Linked DNA regions of Homo sapiens. The protein of the gene in region 1 interacts with the protein of each later gene in a pairwise test. Each region holds a gene or a part of one and is shown on either strand. Other genes may lie near its edges.

What was found. The genes of interacting proteins can lie anywhere in the genome.
Region 2: the proteins of KLC1 (region 1) and BNIP2 interact in binary tests that used the Homo sapiens proteins (3 or more experiments, as listed by UniProt).
Region 3: the proteins of KLC1 (region 1) and LRSAM1 interact in a two-hybrid assay, tested with the Homo sapiens proteins (one large-scale study listed by BioGRID and IntAct).
Region 4: the proteins of KLC1 (region 1) and F2RL1 interact in a two-hybrid assay, tested with the Homo sapiens proteins (one large-scale study listed by BioGRID and IntAct).

The regions. Positions count from the first base shown.
Region 1 is NC_000014.9:103,694,364-103,699,769, forward strand, and holds part of KLC1 (kinesin light chain 1), read left to right. Parts: exon of another isoform or gene 1-2,792; intron 2,793-3,253; exon of another isoform or gene 3,254-4,434; coding exon of another isoform or gene 4,435-4,654; intron 4,655-4,769; coding exon of another isoform or gene 4,770-4,816; intron 4,817-5,000; coding exon of another isoform or gene 5,001-5,213; intron 5,214-5,406. Other genes in the region: DNA repair protein XRCC3, read right to left, coding at 4,435-4,654, 4,770-4,816, 5,001-5,213. UniProt on the Homo sapiens protein: Kinesin is a microtubule-associated force-producing protein that may play a role in organelle transport. The light chain may function in coupling of cargo to the heavy chain or in the modulation of its ATPase activity.
Region 2 is NC_000015.10:59,672,321-59,675,820, forward strand, and holds part of BNIP2 (BCL2/adenovirus E1B 19 kDa protein-interacting protein 2), read right to left. Parts: intron 420-3,500; coding exon 317-419; intron 1-316.
Region 3 is NC_000009.12:127,454,510-127,458,009, forward strand, and holds part of LRSAM1 (E3 ubiquitin-protein ligase LRSAM1), read left to right. Parts: 5' UTR 1-18; coding exon 19-90; intron 91-488; coding exon 489-545; intron 546-1,066; coding exon 1,067-1,111; intron 1,112-2,806; coding exon 2,807-2,884; intron 2,885-3,500.
Region 4 is NC_000005.10:76,832,423-76,835,815, forward strand, and holds the end of F2RL1 (proteinase-activated receptor 2 preproprotein), read left to right. Parts: intron 1-267; coding exon 268-1,379; 3' UTR 1,380-2,893; downstream 2,894-3,393. UniProt on the Homo sapiens protein: Receptor for trypsin and trypsin-like enzymes coupled to G proteins.

The DNA of each region.
Region 1 (5,406 bases):
GCCTCAGCCTCCCGAGTAGCTGGGACTACAGGCACCCGCCAGGCGGATCACAAGGTCAGGAGATCGAGACCATCCTGGCTAACATGGCGTTTCACTTTTTAAAAGCTTAAGCTTTATGGAATGAGGGAGCACGGTGGACTCTGACAGGAACCTTTTCAAATCAATGCTGAGGCTGTATTTCTTAGCCGTCCACAAACTAGTCCATAGGTAAAGAGCATACAAAACAGACGCCGAGGTGATCAGTGATTCCAAAGGCTGACGCTCAGCAGCGCCACCTCCATGCCAGCCAACTAGGCTACGGGATGGAGGGGCGGTCTGTGAAACACCAGCCATCCCGTGAAAGCTCAGCTTGCCACTGTCATGTAACAGGGTGGGTGGTGGCACAGCAGAGGCTCACACTTGTCACCTTCAGCCTCTAGAAGCTCCCCGTGGGGCACGAAGGCTGGGGACAGAGTGTCCTGAGGTTTTGTTACAAGGCTAGACTTTAAAATACCTTTCAAAGTTTCATCCCGCCTCATGTCGCAGGACTGCTGTGTTTGTGAAAGCGCGTTTGTTTCCACAAGACAAGCTCCGTGTAGTCGCCAGCGGGTGCCTGGCCCAGGAGCTGCCCTGTGGAGCCAGCGTTGTCCCCGAGCTGCTCGCCTGTGGCCGTGGCTCCTTTTCTGAGGCTCCTGACTCCATTCTTGCAGATTCTGGTGGATCAGGAGCTTACATTCTAAATGCTACATAGAGGTGTTGAAGAAAATTTCATAGGTTCTGTAATAGTGGATGGGATTAAAAGAAAAAATGTTAAATTATATATATATATATGGCTGGGTGCGGTGGTTCATGCCAGTAATCCTATAATCTTAGCACTTTGGGAGGCTGAGGCGGGAGGATCACTTGAGCCCAGTTCAAGAACAGCTTGGGCAACACAGCGAGTCCCTGTGTCTAGCAAAAAAAACCATGTGTATATATATATATATGTGTGTGTGTGTATATATATATATATATATATACATACATATATATACATATATAATTTGATGGGTTGTGAGAAGCCAACCCCCCCCAAAAAAAGGGGGGTGTAGAGCAGCTTCCCCTGACAGGTGCCGTGGCTGCCCCCGTAGTGGGCTATGTCTGTGCACAGGCGACAGGGAGGAGGGCTCCGGAGCTTCCCTTGTGGTGGGGGTGCCTTCTCCCTGTGAGGATGCTGAGCAGAGTTTGGAACCCAGACAGTTTCCCTTAGTGACAGTTATCTGGAAAGGAAAAAGGGCATTTAGAAGGAATAAACATAGGGCTGAATATGGAGTTGAATTTTAACCTCTTCAGACTGATGGGTGCAGACGAGGTTGTGTGGGGCCTCTGTGGAGCCTGCTGTGGCTTCCAGCCATGGGACTTTAGGGCCGAGGTGGCCTCTGCAGCACTGTGGCTGTGGGAGCACTGTGTGTTGGGGTAAGAGAAGCCAGGGGGCCTCCCTGAAGCCAGCTCATAAAGGAAGGTTCGTGTTTCAGAGGGAGGCGGCAAGGGAATCTGAGTACCTGAGTCCCCGATGTTTGAACCCTTCCACCCAATAGAAGTGCGGTGATTTCAGCCATTTCCCATCTGGCGGTCTGAATTTTTCCCTTCAGAGGAGAGAAGTGGTGGGCCCAGGCATCCCTCCTCCTGTGTGTGGTCGTTCTGGTGAGAGGAACCCCACGCGAGAGTCAGCACCTGTTTCTTCAGAGTTGCTGTCAAAATAATCACTGCGCCCCCGCCCCCCGCCCCCCCCCACAGCAGCCGTGTGTGCAGCGCCCGTCCCCAGCAACCATGGCATGGGAGCGTCTGGATCTGTGGGCGGACAGCATATCTCTGGGTAGTTGGTGCAGCTGTGGCAGAAATCAGGCCCCTGGGGAAGTCCTGTGACATGGATGCTTCCCTGAAGCAGCAGCAGTGTGTGGCTCAGGGGTCCTCAGAGGCCGGTGGTGCCCGCGGGTGGCACGGGGCACTCTCATGGGCAGCACTTGGTCTTGTGTTTACAGTATTGGAGGGATTCACATCGTTGTTTTCTGGATTAAGCTGCTAGGAGTATCATGTACTTAGAAATTCAGTGTTTATAGTAAGATGTATTAAACATTGCTAATGATGTATCGTTACAATGTATAACAGGTTTTCCATTGTCATAACTGTATGGAATTTTCTTGGAGGATGTCATTAGCTTCTGTTTGCACTGACTTGTGAGCTGTGTGTACGCTGTGGTCAGATTTCTGAATGCTGTAGAGCACTTACCAGCTCTGACCGTGTCTTGCTGGGGCCAGCAGGCTGCGTGTGCAGCGGGGCCAGCTGTCTCAGGGCTGATATGTAGACGTGTATTCTGTTTACAATTAGTTCCCCAACTCTGTGGGGAAGAACTTAAGCGGTTTTAGTGTTTTATAATATGGTGAGGCAATGAGGGTCAGGGCGCGTGGTCCCTGAGGGAGGGTCTTCAGGGCAAGACCCATGGCCCTGGCCTGGAACTGTGCTCCCCAGGGCGTGGTGCCTCCCTAAGGGGATGGTCAGTGTTCTGGGACTGACTGCCAGGCCAGCCCGTCTGCAGACTCCTGTGGTGGGAGTTCCCTGGGACGGGAAGCCCCTCGGCCCCTTCCCTCCAGGGGCAGGAACTGAGCCAGCATGGGCGGGGCCGGCCGAGCTTCCAGGCGTGTTTTCTCTGTTAAATGTACCTCTGTCTTTAAGCTGTCTCATTTTCTAATCGCTGGCATGTCTTGCCTAGAAAAGCATTTGGAATTGCTTATGTTCAATTACAGAAATAAAATGTCTTACTTGCCATTGTAGAATTCCTGCACTTTTGCAGAAAGGCTGTTTTGTAAAAATCCAACCCCAAAATAACTTTTTCCCATGTTCATGCCAGTGATTCTTAACTTTAGGGTCATAGAGAGCCTTGATAACATGATGAAGGTTTAAACGGATTGTCCCACCCTGGAAAACGGCAAACAGAAAAATTCTGCACAGTATGGCCCCAGCCCTTACCTTTCCCCCAACCAGTGCCAGCCCCCCTTCCTCCCACTGTAGGAGCACCCACAGGCTCACCCTGGGCACATAAGGTGGGGGGTGACAATTTCTGCCTCTGGGTTGTGGGAGGAGTCAAGCTACTTAACGGTTCTGGGCCTGAATTTCCCTACCTGCAAGTGGAGATGTAACAGTACCTATCCCTAGGAGTTGTGAGGAGAACATACTTCAATGTGTATAAATTACTCAGAGCAGTGCCTGGCAGACAGCAAGAAGCAGGTCCTGGAACTGCATCCATTGAACATTTATTTGTCAAAGGCCTGGTCTGTGCCAGGCAGCATGTGGAGGCACTGAGTGGGGGGTGGAGGGGGTTGTACGGTGGGAATCAAGGGGGTCACCACTGTGCCCATGGGGAGGCCACGCCACTCTGCCTGCTGGGTGGATATTTCAGCCTGTGCAGCCAGATGTGTTCCCAGGAGGCTCTGCTTTCCAGCCAGATGTAAGGCCTGGCCACAGTGTGGGACTGGGTCTGCACAGTGTGGGACTGCAGGACAGGGTCCTGCAGGTGGCCCTGCCAGGAGTCCTGCCATATCCCTACCAGAATACCACCCAGCCAGGCCAGGGCTGAGCTGGACGCCCAGACCCCCAGGGCCAGGATACACCGGGACCCTCCTTCCTCTCAACCTCGGATCCTCTTTGCCCAGAACTGTGTTCCCAGGTGGCTGACGAGCCTGTCACGTGCCAGCCCTGCGCTGCCTGCGCTCCTCTGACCGGCTGTGGTGCTGGCACAGGCCACACTACTAGAGACAAGGCAGTCCCCCCACCCCCAGGCTCTCCTGGACCCTGACACTGGAGGTTGGTGGGATATGCTTTCTCCACCTTGTACCACACTGAAGTTTTGTGGGGCACAGTGTGTGCCGAGGTGGGGCCCCCGGGAGCCAAGGACCCAGAGGTGGGTGAGGAGGAGCCGCCTGCCTGCAGCCCCACTGTGGCCTGAGTGGTGGGGGAGTAAGGACTGCCCTGTGTGCAGGAGGGGAGACCCTCGTGGGCACGGTCCCAAGGCTGAGGGGGTCTGAGGCCCCAGCCCAGGGGGCAGGCCTCAGACGCAACCCCAGTTGGGCTTCCATGTGGAGAGAAGAAGCAGGCGGCTCCCAGGGAGTCACTGTAGGACACCCCAGGCTCCAGCCCTGAGAATCACCTCTCCCCAAGGGCCAGCTCAGCAGTGGGGACCAGGTACCCAGCAAGCGGGCCTGTCCCCAGACCCAGGGAGAGGCAGAACATCCCCCCAGCTCAGATGGGGGTCAGTCTGTGGCCACCATCTTCGGATGAGAAAGTGGAGCCGCTGCCCTGGAAGAGCTGTGTCTGAACCAGGCTCCCAGCTGTGCCACGGCCCAGGCAGACGCGTTTTAAAGGCCCGAGCCCCGTGTGTCGGGGCTTCTCAGGCAGGGCTGTTGTGCAGCCGCCACCGTGTCAGTGGGACTGGGTCCCAGGTGTCCCTCGCACCCCTTCGGCACTGATCGTGTAGGAACAGGAGGAGGGGGGCAGGTGGGGGGCAGAGAGCACCCGCAGGGTCCGGGCTGGGCAGCCGAGGGCAGCCTCTTCCTCGCGGAGCCGGTCAGCCAGCAGTCTCACCAGGAGCTGGTTAGCCCAGGTTATGCCAAGGGCTGGGGAAACACGTTCGTCCCAGAACCTGAGAAACAGGAAGCAGGCAAGCTGGCGCTCAGGCTTGGTGGCCCCGCCCACTTCGGCCCAGCTGTGCCCCTGGCACCTGCACAGAGGTGCACACACCACATGGCTGCACTCACCCCAGCGGCCCGTGTGCTGCGCCCTGCTCCTCCATGGCCTCTGTCACCTGGAAGAGCACAGTCCAGGTCAGCTGCAACGGCTGAGGGTCTTCTCGATGGTTAGGCACAGGCTGCTACCCGCAGGAGCCGGAGGCCACCTCACTGCCACCCGCCCCACCTCCAGACCGGCTCTGCTTCCGCATCCTGGCTAAAAATACGAGCTCAGGGGTGCAACCCTGCCTTGGTGCTCACCTGGTTGATGCACAGCACAGGGCTCTGGAAGGCACTGCTCAGCTCACGCAGCGTGGCCCCCAGGGACTGCAGATGCCTGGCCCTGGGGGCGGAGGCCTGGCTGTCAAATTCACAGCGGAATGGGGCTGCCACCGAGTCGATGACCACCAGGCGAGCCATGCCCCGAGACAGCAGTACGGGGACCTTCTTATTCACACACTCCAACAAGGTGTCCTGTGGGGACAGCTGTCATTGTCTATGCTGGTCAGCAAGTCCCCGCCCCAGGTGACCAGACCCCGTTTGGACTGTCACTCGACCGTCTGAAAACCTTCCTACCCACCTGGGGCTCACAGTGCCCATACTCTGTAGTCCCCATACTCTGAGCCCAATTCTGTATTTTTCTCAAAGAGGCCCCAACTATAGAAGC
Region 2 (3,500 bases), on another chromosome or scaffold:
TAGAGTGCAGTGGCAAAATCACAGTTCACTGCAGCTTTGACCTCATGGGCTCAGGTGATACTTCCACCTCAGCCTCCTGAGTAGGTGGGGCTACAGGCCCATACTACCATGCCTGGCTAATTTTTTGATTTTGTAGAGAAAGAGCTTTGTCATATCGCCTAGGCTGGTCTCCAACTCCTGGACTCAAGTGATCTGCCCACTTCAGTCTCCCAAAGAACTGGAATATTTATAATTTTTGAAAAGGTTAAGTTTCTTAAGGTGTAGATCTAATTAGCTCACAATTCTGTCCAAATGTTTTTGTTTAATATATACTTACTTAAAAAGATTGTCCATCAGGTATCTATAGTTAGGCTGACTACTTTCAGGCATGAAACAGACAGCAAACACAACAATGGCATTTAATCCATCCCCATAATATCCTAAAAAAGAAACCAAAGACAGTATCACCAGCACGATTTTACTCTTAGGCATTTTTAGAAGACATCTGTATGATTAGTAAATTATAAATAAGAGTTTACTTTTCACAGATTTCTGTATTAAATGTATGTTTTGTAAATCTTATATGGTCTTATATAGAATTTTAATGTCTTCTTCCCAAAAAGAGAACAGTAAAATTTAAAGAGGACGGTGGACAGAAAAAACAAAAAAACCCAAGACCACTTAAATTCGCATATTTAAAAAGCCAGCCCTATTTTAGCAGGTAGACAAATATAGTGATATAACCCAATACAATACAGACACAATACAATAACTGCAATGTATTTTTATTTATTTCTATGATGCTTATGGTTAAAGTGGGTGCTTTTTTTTTTTTTTTAGATGGAGTCTCGTTCTGTCGTCCAGGCTGGAGGGCAGTGGCACAATCTCGGCTCACTGCAACCTCCGCCTCCTGGCTTCACGCGATTCTCCTGCCTCCCGAGTAGCTGGGATTATAAGCGCACACCACCGTGCCCGGCTAATTTTTTGTGTATTTTTAGTAGAGATGGGGTTTCACTAAGTTGGCCAGACTGGTCTCGAACTCCTGACCTCGTGATCTGCCTGCCTCAGCCTCCCACAGTGCTGGGATTACAGGCGTGAGCCACCGTGCCCGGCAAAGTGGGTGCTTTTTTAAATTTTTTTTTAGAGGATAGCATCTTGCTCCATTGCCCAGGATGGAGTGCAGTGGCGCAATCACAGCTCATGCAGCCTTGAACTTCTGGGCTCAAGGGATCTTCCCACCTCATAGCCTCCAGAGGAGCTGGGGATACAGCGCACACAAACATGCCTGGTTAACCTTTATAAAATTTTTTTTGTAGAGATAGGGTTTCACTGTGTTGCTCAGACTGGTCGTGAACTCCTGGCCTTAAGCAATCCTCCTCCTTTGGCCTCCCAAAGCACTGGGCATGAGCCACATCGCCAGAGCCATAAGTGGGTGATTTTTAAAAGGTAAGTTTATATTTAAAAATGCTAGCATTTTGTAGAAATTAGGACATTAAAACTAAATTAGGCCGGGCGAGGTGGCTCATGCTTGTAATTCCAGCACTTCGGGAGGCTGAGGTGGGCAGATCACTTAAGGCCAGGAATTTTGAGACCAGCCTGGCCAACATGGCGAAACCCCATCTCTACTAAAGATATAAACAATTAGCTGGGTGTGGTGGTGTGCACCTGTAGTCCCAGCTACTCAGGAGGCTGAGGCAGGACAATCATTCAAACCTGGGAGGCGGAGGTTGCAGTGAGTCGAGACTGCACCACTGCACTCCAGCCTGGGCAACAGAGCAAGACTTGGGTCTCAAAAAAAAAACAAAAACAAAAACAAAAAAACAAACTAAATTACATCTCTGACATAATTTTCAGTAATGGAAAACAGCGCTAAAATATGTATGTTTCAACAGCAGTCTTTAGATATTAAGCCAATATTTAGTAGCAAATACTTCTGCTTTAACCTTCATTTCTATTGCTTACAAATTTGCACATGAAAAGATTTGAACATTTCAAGAACATCAGAATCTTCACTACCTTTCTTAATCACTCAGTCACAAAATATATTAAGTGTGGTAATGCAATAAAATAAGGTGGTCTTATTTTCCCCTATAAAAAAAGTGCTATTTCTGAAAGATAAGAGATTTAAGCCATAAATCAGGTCTTATAATTTGATTCCTGTGAACTAGCTGAATAATGTATGTCTGTGGACTTCCTGATGCAGATTACGCCATTTTCTTCATCTGAGTACGATTAAATTAGGCAGAAGAATGCAACTACAAATATTCATGTGATTTGCTTTCAGATGAATGAAGACTGTAGAAATAAGCAGGGGAATGCATCTGGCAGAGAGTAAATCAAGTGGAAATGACCCTGAAAAAAAATCAATCTGCTTGACCCATATGCCCTCCGTCCTGTGTTAGGAGGATTTAAGGTAGTATGACATGCTCTACAGTGAGTTGTGTTCTGACTTACCACTAACATTCTAGCACTATTTACAATGTGCCTAGGTTAACTTCTATATATGGTACTGTTAGATTGAAAGGATTTATAACTTAAACTTTTATGGCTTTTCCTATTTCTTAAGGGCAGGGACTTAAGCCTTGTATTTTTGTATATCCCATAAGTATGGAAAGTGGGTGCTGTATAGAAGTGTGGAGTGAACTAGTTCTCTATTAAAAAATAATTTGGCCTGGGCACTGTGGCTCATGCCTGTAATCCCAGCACTTTGGGAGGCTGAGGCGGGCAGATCACAAGGTCAGGAGTTCGAGACCAGCCTGGCCAATATGGTGAAACCCCGTCTCTACTAAAAATACAAAAATTAGCCAGGCGTGGTGGCGTGCACCTGTAGTCCCACCTACTTGGGAGGCTGAGGCTGGCGTATCGCTTGAGCCTGGGAGGCAGAGGTTGCAGTGAGCCGAGATTGCGCCACTGCACTCCAGCCTGGGTGACAGAATGAGACTCCATCTCAAAAAAAAAAAAAAGAAAAAAAAATTTGTTCACGGTTTTAAGGCAAATTAAGAGTTAAGGTTAAAAAGTCCAAGTTTTAGGGCCGGGCACGGTGGCTCATGCCTGTAATCCCAGCACTTCAGGAGGCTGGGGTGAGCAAATCACGAGGTCAGGTGATCGAGACCATCCTGGCTAACATGGTGAAACCCTTTCTCTACTAAAAATACAAAAAATTAGCTGGGCATGGTGGCGTGCACCTGTAATCCCAGCTACTCGGGAGACTGAGGCAGGAGAATCCCTTGAACCGAGGAGGCAGAGGTTGCAGTGAGCTGTCACGCCACTGCACTCCAGCCTGGGTGACAGAGCAAGACTCTGTCTCAAAACAAAACAAAACAAAAAGAGTCCAAGTTTTACTTATATCCATAAATGACTTCTACAAGAATGTTCAAAGCAGTTTTGTTTATAACAGCCCAAGCTGGAAACAACTCACATGCACATAAAAAAAAACGGATAAGCAAATTATGGTTTATCCAAGCAATGGAAAACTACTCAGCAATAAGAAGGAATGTACTGTGGATACGTGCAACAACATG
Region 3 (3,500 bases), on another chromosome or scaffold:
CTCTGGGAAAAGGGAAGGATGCCGCTCTTCTTCCGGAAGCGGAAACCCAGTGAGGAGGCTCGGAAACGCCTGGAGTACCAGATGTGTTTGGTGAGGGAAAGTGGGTTTCCTCTAACTCTATCCCATCTCCTCCTCGGTCCCCATGGAGTAGGCCTCCGCACTGCCCCCAACAAGCCGTGCTCCTTCCCATCTGCCTCCCCCACCCACAGAAGAAATATTTGACTTAGACCCAACAGATGAGGCCCCCTGCCAAGGGTGCTTCTCCCCTGTAGACTGAGCGCACTGTCATTGCTTTTCAGTTCCTCATCCCTCTGGGCCTCAAGCTCTGGGAAAGCAGGGGTCATTGGTTCACCTGCCAAATGGACCAGTGGAACCAGATAGTGTCTATGGTCCTTTGCAGCTGCTTACATTTATGTTCTTTGCCTGGCTTGTCCACTCTGCAAAGGTGTTTTGTCTTAATACTTTTTAAAAATTCTTTTTATCCTTAGGCAAAAGAAGCTGGGGCAGATGACATTCTCGACATCTCTAAATGTGAGCTCTCAGAGGTAAACTGAGGATAGTGTTGGGCTGTGAATTGGATCTGTCCCGTTTTCTTGGATCTTGTGTCCCTAGGAAAGACAGAGGTGGACTGGGGCTTTAGAAAGGCCAGAAGCTCTAGTCACGAGATGTTTCCTTAGATTTTGTTCTCGTCCAAAATAATTGAAGATGATCCTTTGGCCTCAATATAACGTAGTCTCCAAGAGTCAAGGAGTCTAGGTAGAAAATGTACCCATAGACTCCTACATTGCTGGAAGGGCCTGGCATTCTCCAGCCCCTGAAGGGGTTCACAATGGGGACAGGGTGGGTGGGGCAGGGCAGTCTCCTGCCAGCTGACCGAGGGAAGGGCTGGCCACATCCCCAACACCACTGCTTGCCAGCCTTGCCCCTGGGCTCAGCACTGCCACCTGCTGTGGCGTTTTGCCCTTGTTCACCTCCTGCCTGTCTCTTCCTCACGTGAATGCCACTCAGAGAACAAGCTAAAAACTGGCAGGAGGGGAGACACTTACTCTTCTTTATCTTATCTTAGATTCCATTTGGAGCTTTTGCAACATGCAAAGTTCTGCAGAAGAAGGTAAGATGGAGCTTCATCTTCAGAGACTTTCTTGTTGCATGTCTGCTTGTTTGAACCCACAAGGGACTTTGAGGAGCTGTCTTCCCGGCGTAGACACCTCCTTTCTCTCTGCTTCTTATGCTCTTGGCCTGCAGCAGGTGTTTTCACAGATAGGAGAGTAGGCTTTGGGGTTGGACCTTCCTGTGTCACATTCTAACTCTGCCCTCACTGGCTTCATGACTTGGGCAACTTCCTTAAACTCTTACTTCTCAGTTTCTTCCCCTGTGAAATGAAGACATTCATAGTTCTCCTTCCTGAGGTATTGTGAGAATTAAATGAGTGGTAGATAGCTAGATAGAGATAGAAATATACTGAGTGTACATGCCTACCACGTAGTAAAGGCTTATGAACCCCGGTGTTAGTAATAATAGAAACTCACGCCTTTTATTCTGGTCACCCAGGGGAGATTCAGAGGGGAGTGAATGATTTTTCAGCAGAGCATTGCAGCTTTGAATGCAGATGGGTAGAAGCGCTCTAAGTGAAGTATCTAAATGAGAATATGCAAAAAAAAAAAAAAAAAAAAGTGTTCCCTGCCAACAGAGTAGTGAGCTCCTTGGCGCTGGAAGTTTTGTTTGTTTTTTTTTTTTTTTGAAGACGGACGCTCTGCTCTGTCACCCAGGCTGGAGTGCAGTGGTGCAATCTCAGCTCACTGAAACCTCCGCCTCCTGGGTTCAAGCAATTCTCCTGCCTCAGCCTCCTGAGTAGCTGGGATTATAGGCGCCCACCACCATGCCCAACTAATTTTTGTATTTTTAGAGATGAGGTTTTGCCATGTTGGCCAGGCTGGTCTCGAACTCCTGACCTCAAGTGATCCACCTGCCTTAGCCTGCCAAAGTGCTGGGATTACAGGTGTGAGCCACCACGCCCAGTCTGTGCTGGAAGTGTTGGGCCGCAGTCAATGCCTAAGAAAAATGCAGTAGATTGGCCGGGTGCGGTGGCTCATGCCTGTAATCCCAGCACTTCGGGAGGCCGAGGTGGGCAGATCACGAGGTCAGGAGATCAAGACCATCCTGGCTACCATGGTGAAACCCGGTCTCTACCAAAAATAAAAAAAAAATCAGCTGGGTGTGGTGGCATGCGCCTGTAGTCCCAGCTACTCGGGAGGGCGAGACAGGAGAATTGCTTGAACCTGGGAGGCGGAGGTTGCAGTGAGCTGAGATCACACCACTGCACTCCAGCTTGGGCGACAGAGCAAGAGTTGGTCTCAAAAAAAAAAAAAAAGAAAAGGAAAAATAGCAGTAGATGACCTGGACTGAGCCCTGGCCCCTCTGCCAGCCCTGGAAGTTTTGCGCATGAGCTTTTATTTAACATCATGGCAGCCCTGGGAGGCAAGCACTTTATTATTCTCTATTTTCCACGTGAAGACGCTGGTGCTGGGAAGGTTATGATCAGGATGGCTGCAGGGGGATCCCTTCTCAGATGGAAGGAAGATGTAGACCTCTAAGGTCTCTTTCACCCTTGAAGATCCAGGTTTTAAGGAAGGGCATTAGATTCCCCATTGGGAGAGTTCATGATACTGACCCGCATCCCCGTGGTGGTGTCTGGGAGAGCAAGATGGTGGGGCGTGGCACGGCGCTGGGCTGGCTCCCACGCCCTTAGCCTGCCCTGCCTGCTGCTCTTCCTCAGCCCAGCATGGCCGCACATCTCTCCACACAGGTGCTGATCGTCCACACGAATCACCTCACTTCCCTGCTTCCCAAATCCTGCAGCCTCCTGAGTCTGGCAACCATCAAGGTACTGGGCCCTCCTCCCAGGCAGCTGGGGCTCTGCATGGGGTTCCACGCGGCAGCTGAGCGCCTGCTCCTTTTGGGCTGCCTCTTGCATGTCAGAGGGGCCCAATCTACCAGTCAGTCTGGGATTTGATCAGTATGGTTTACTGGATACTTCTGTGGGCTGTGTGTGGGTTAGGGTGACAAAGATGACCAGCCACAGGCCCTGTCCCTGGGGAGTTTACATGCCAGGAGGAAAGCCAAGTGACAGCCTCATGGCGAGTCAGCTAGCAGAGGGCGAGGAGACTGATGGTCCCAGGCAAGAAGGAAGAGGAGGGACGCGCAGGTGATCTGGAAGGACTCCCTGCTGACTGTGAGCTCCTCCCCGGATGGGCTGGGAGGCATTCACAACATGTGGGAGGTGTGAGCCCAGGGTTGTTATGCGCAGACCTGAGCTTGGGAGAGTGATATGCACCTTCAGAGGAGGCCGGCAGCACAGGTGTCAGCCCAGCAGCACAGGCCCAATCTGTTATACTATATTGTTTAGGGAATAATGACAAGAGAAAAGCCTGTATGTGTTCACTACAGATGCTTTCTTTCTTTTTTTTTTTTTTAATATTTTGCACCTGAGTTTGGTTGAA
Region 4 (3,393 bases), on another chromosome or scaffold:
GAGATCCTATCTCTACAAAAAGTAAAAAATTAGCTGGGTGTGATGGTGTGTGCCTGTGGCCTGGCTGTTTAGGAGGATTGCTTGAGCCCAAAAGTTTGAGGCTGCGGTGCATTATGATCGCTCCACTACGCTCCAGCCTGGGTGACAGCGAGACCCTGTCTCATAAATTAAAAAATGAATAAATGAATGTACTTTCATTTGAACAAACCAGTGTTACTGCTGAAACATTTATTTCTGTAATGACCCTTGTCTTCCTTTCTTGTACAGGAACCAGTAGATCCTCTAAAGGAAGAAGCCTTATTGGTAAGGTTGATGGCACATCCCACGTCACTGGAAAAGGAGTTACAGTTGAAACAGTCTTTTCTGTGGATGAGTTTTCTGCATCTGTCCTCACTGGAAAACTGACCACTGTCTTCCTTCCAATTGTCTACACAATTGTGTTTGTGGTGGGTTTGCCAAGTAACGGCATGGCCCTGTGGGTCTTTCTTTTCCGAACTAAGAAGAAGCACCCTGCTGTGATTTACATGGCCAATCTGGCCTTGGCTGACCTCCTCTCTGTCATCTGGTTCCCCTTGAAGATTGCCTATCACATACATGGCAACAACTGGATTTATGGGGAAGCTCTTTGTAATGTGCTTATTGGCTTTTTCTATGGCAACATGTACTGTTCCATTCTCTTCATGACCTGCCTCAGTGTGCAGAGGTATTGGGTCATCGTGAACCCCATGGGGCACTCCAGGAAGAAGGCAAACATTGCCATTGGCATCTCCCTGGCAATATGGCTGCTGATTCTGCTGGTCACCATTCCTTTGTATGTCGTGAAGCAGACCATCTTCATTCCTGCCCTGAACATCACGACCTGTCATGATGTTTTGCCTGAGCAGCTCTTGGTGGGAGACATGTTCAATTACTTCCTCTCTCTGGCCATTGGGGTCTTTCTGTTCCCAGCCTTCCTCACAGCCTCTGCCTATGTGCTGATGATCAGAATGCTGCGATCTTCTGCCATGGATGAAAACTCAGAGAAGAAAAGGAAGAGGGCCATCAAACTCATTGTCACTGTCCTGGCCATGTACCTGATCTGCTTCACTCCTAGTAACCTTCTGCTTGTGGTGCATTATTTTCTGATTAAGAGCCAGGGCCAGAGCCATGTCTATGCCCTGTACATTGTAGCCCTCTGCCTCTCTACCCTTAACAGCTGCATCGACCCCTTTGTCTATTACTTTGTTTCACATGATTTCAGGGATCATGCAAAGAACGCTCTCCTTTGCCGAAGTGTCCGCACTGTAAAGCAGATGCAAGTATCCCTCACCTCAAAGAAACACTCCAGGAAATCCAGCTCTTACTCTTCAAGTTCAACCACTGTTAAGACCTCCTATTGAGTTTTCCAGGTCCTCAGATGGGAATTGCACAGTAGGATGTGGAACCTGTTTAATGTTATGAGGACGTGTCTGTTATTTCCTAATCAAAAAGGTCTCACCACATACCATGTGGATGCAGCACCTCTCAGGATTGCTAGGAGCTCCCCTGTTTGCATGAGAAAAGTAGTCCCCCAAATTAACATCAGTGTCTGTTTCAGAATCTCTCTACTCAGATGACCCCAGAAACTGAACCAACAGAAGCAGACTTTTCAGAAGATGGTGAAGACAGAAACCCAGTAACTTGCAAAAAGTAGACTTGGTGTGAAGACTCACTTCTCAGCTGAAATTATATATATACACATATATATATTTTACATCTGGGATCATGATAGACTTGTTAGGGCTTCAAGGCCCTCAGAGATGATCAGTCCAACTGAACGACCTTACAAATGAGGAAACCAAGATAAATGAGCTGCCAGAATCAGGTTTCCAATCAACAGCAGTGAGTTGGGATTGGACAGTAGAATTTCAATGTCCAGTGAGTGAGGTTCTTGTACCACTTCATCAAAATCATGGATCTTGGCTGGGTGCGGTGCCTCATGCCTGTAATCCTAGCACTTTGGGAGGCTGAGGCAGGCAATCACTTGAGGTCAGGAGTTCGAGACCAGCCTGGCCATCATGGCGAAACCTCATCTCTACTAAAAATACAAAAGTTAACCAGGTGTGTGGTGCACGTTTGTAATCCCAGTTACTCAGGAGGCTGAGGCACAAGAATTGAGTATCACTTTAACTCAGGAGGCAGAGGTTGCAGTGAGCCGAGATTGCACCACTGCACTCCAGCTTGGGTGATAAAATAAAATAAAATAGTCGTGAATCTTGTTCAAAATGCAGATTCCTCAGATTCAATAATGAGAGCTCAGACTGGGAACAGGGCCCAGGAATCTGTGTGGTACAAACCTGCATGGTGTTTATGCACACAGAGATTTGAGAACCATTGTTCTGAATGCTGCTTCCATTTGACAAAGTGCCGTGATAATTTTTGAAAAGAGAAGCAAACAATGGTGTCTCTTTTATGTTCAGCTTATAATGAAATCTGTTTGTTGACTTATTAGGACTTTGAATTATTTCTTTATTAACCCTCTGAGTTTTTGTATGTATTATTATTAAAGAAAAATGCAATCAGGATTTTAAACATGTAAATACAAATTTTGTATAACTTTTGATGACTTCAGTGAAATTTTCAGGTAGTCTGAGTAATAGATTGTTTTGCCACTTAGAATAGCATTTGCCACTTAGTATTTTAAAAAATAATTGTTGGAGTATTTATTGTCAGTTTTGTTCACTTGTTATCTAATACAAAATTATAAAGCCTTCAGAGGGTTTGGACCACATCTCTTTGGAAAATAGTTTGCAACATATTTAAGAGATACTTGATGCCAAAATGACTTTATACAACGATTGTATTTGTGACTTTTAAAAATAATTATTTTATTGTGTAATTGATTTATAAATAACAAAATTTTTTTTACAACTTATTTCTGAGTTGTGCGTTTGTTTTGAGGGAAGGAGTGAGAGAAGGCAGGCAACAGCTTCACCCCTCTAAAAGTGGACACTCACACCAAACTCTGTGACAACGGTTTTTCATTTAAAAATGTTTCAGAGGCCGGGCACAGTGGCACACGTGTGTAATCCCAGCACTTTGGGAGGCCAAGGTGGGTGGATCACCCGAGGTCAGGAGTTCAAGACCAGCCTGGCCAACATGGCAAGAGCCTGTCTCTATTAAAAATACGAAAATTAGCTGGGCGTGGTGGCAGACGCCTGTAATCCCAGCTACTCGGGAGGCTGAGGCAGGAGAATCGCGTGAACCCGGGAGGTGGAGGTTACGGTGAGCCGAGATTGCGCCATTGCACTCCAGCCTGGGCAACAGGAGCGAAACTCCGTCTCAAAAAAAAAAAAAAAGTTTTAGAATTCTTTCTATACCTGCATCTGTAGGTTGACCGCTTTTCAAGGATACAGGCTATTTAACATTTTGGGT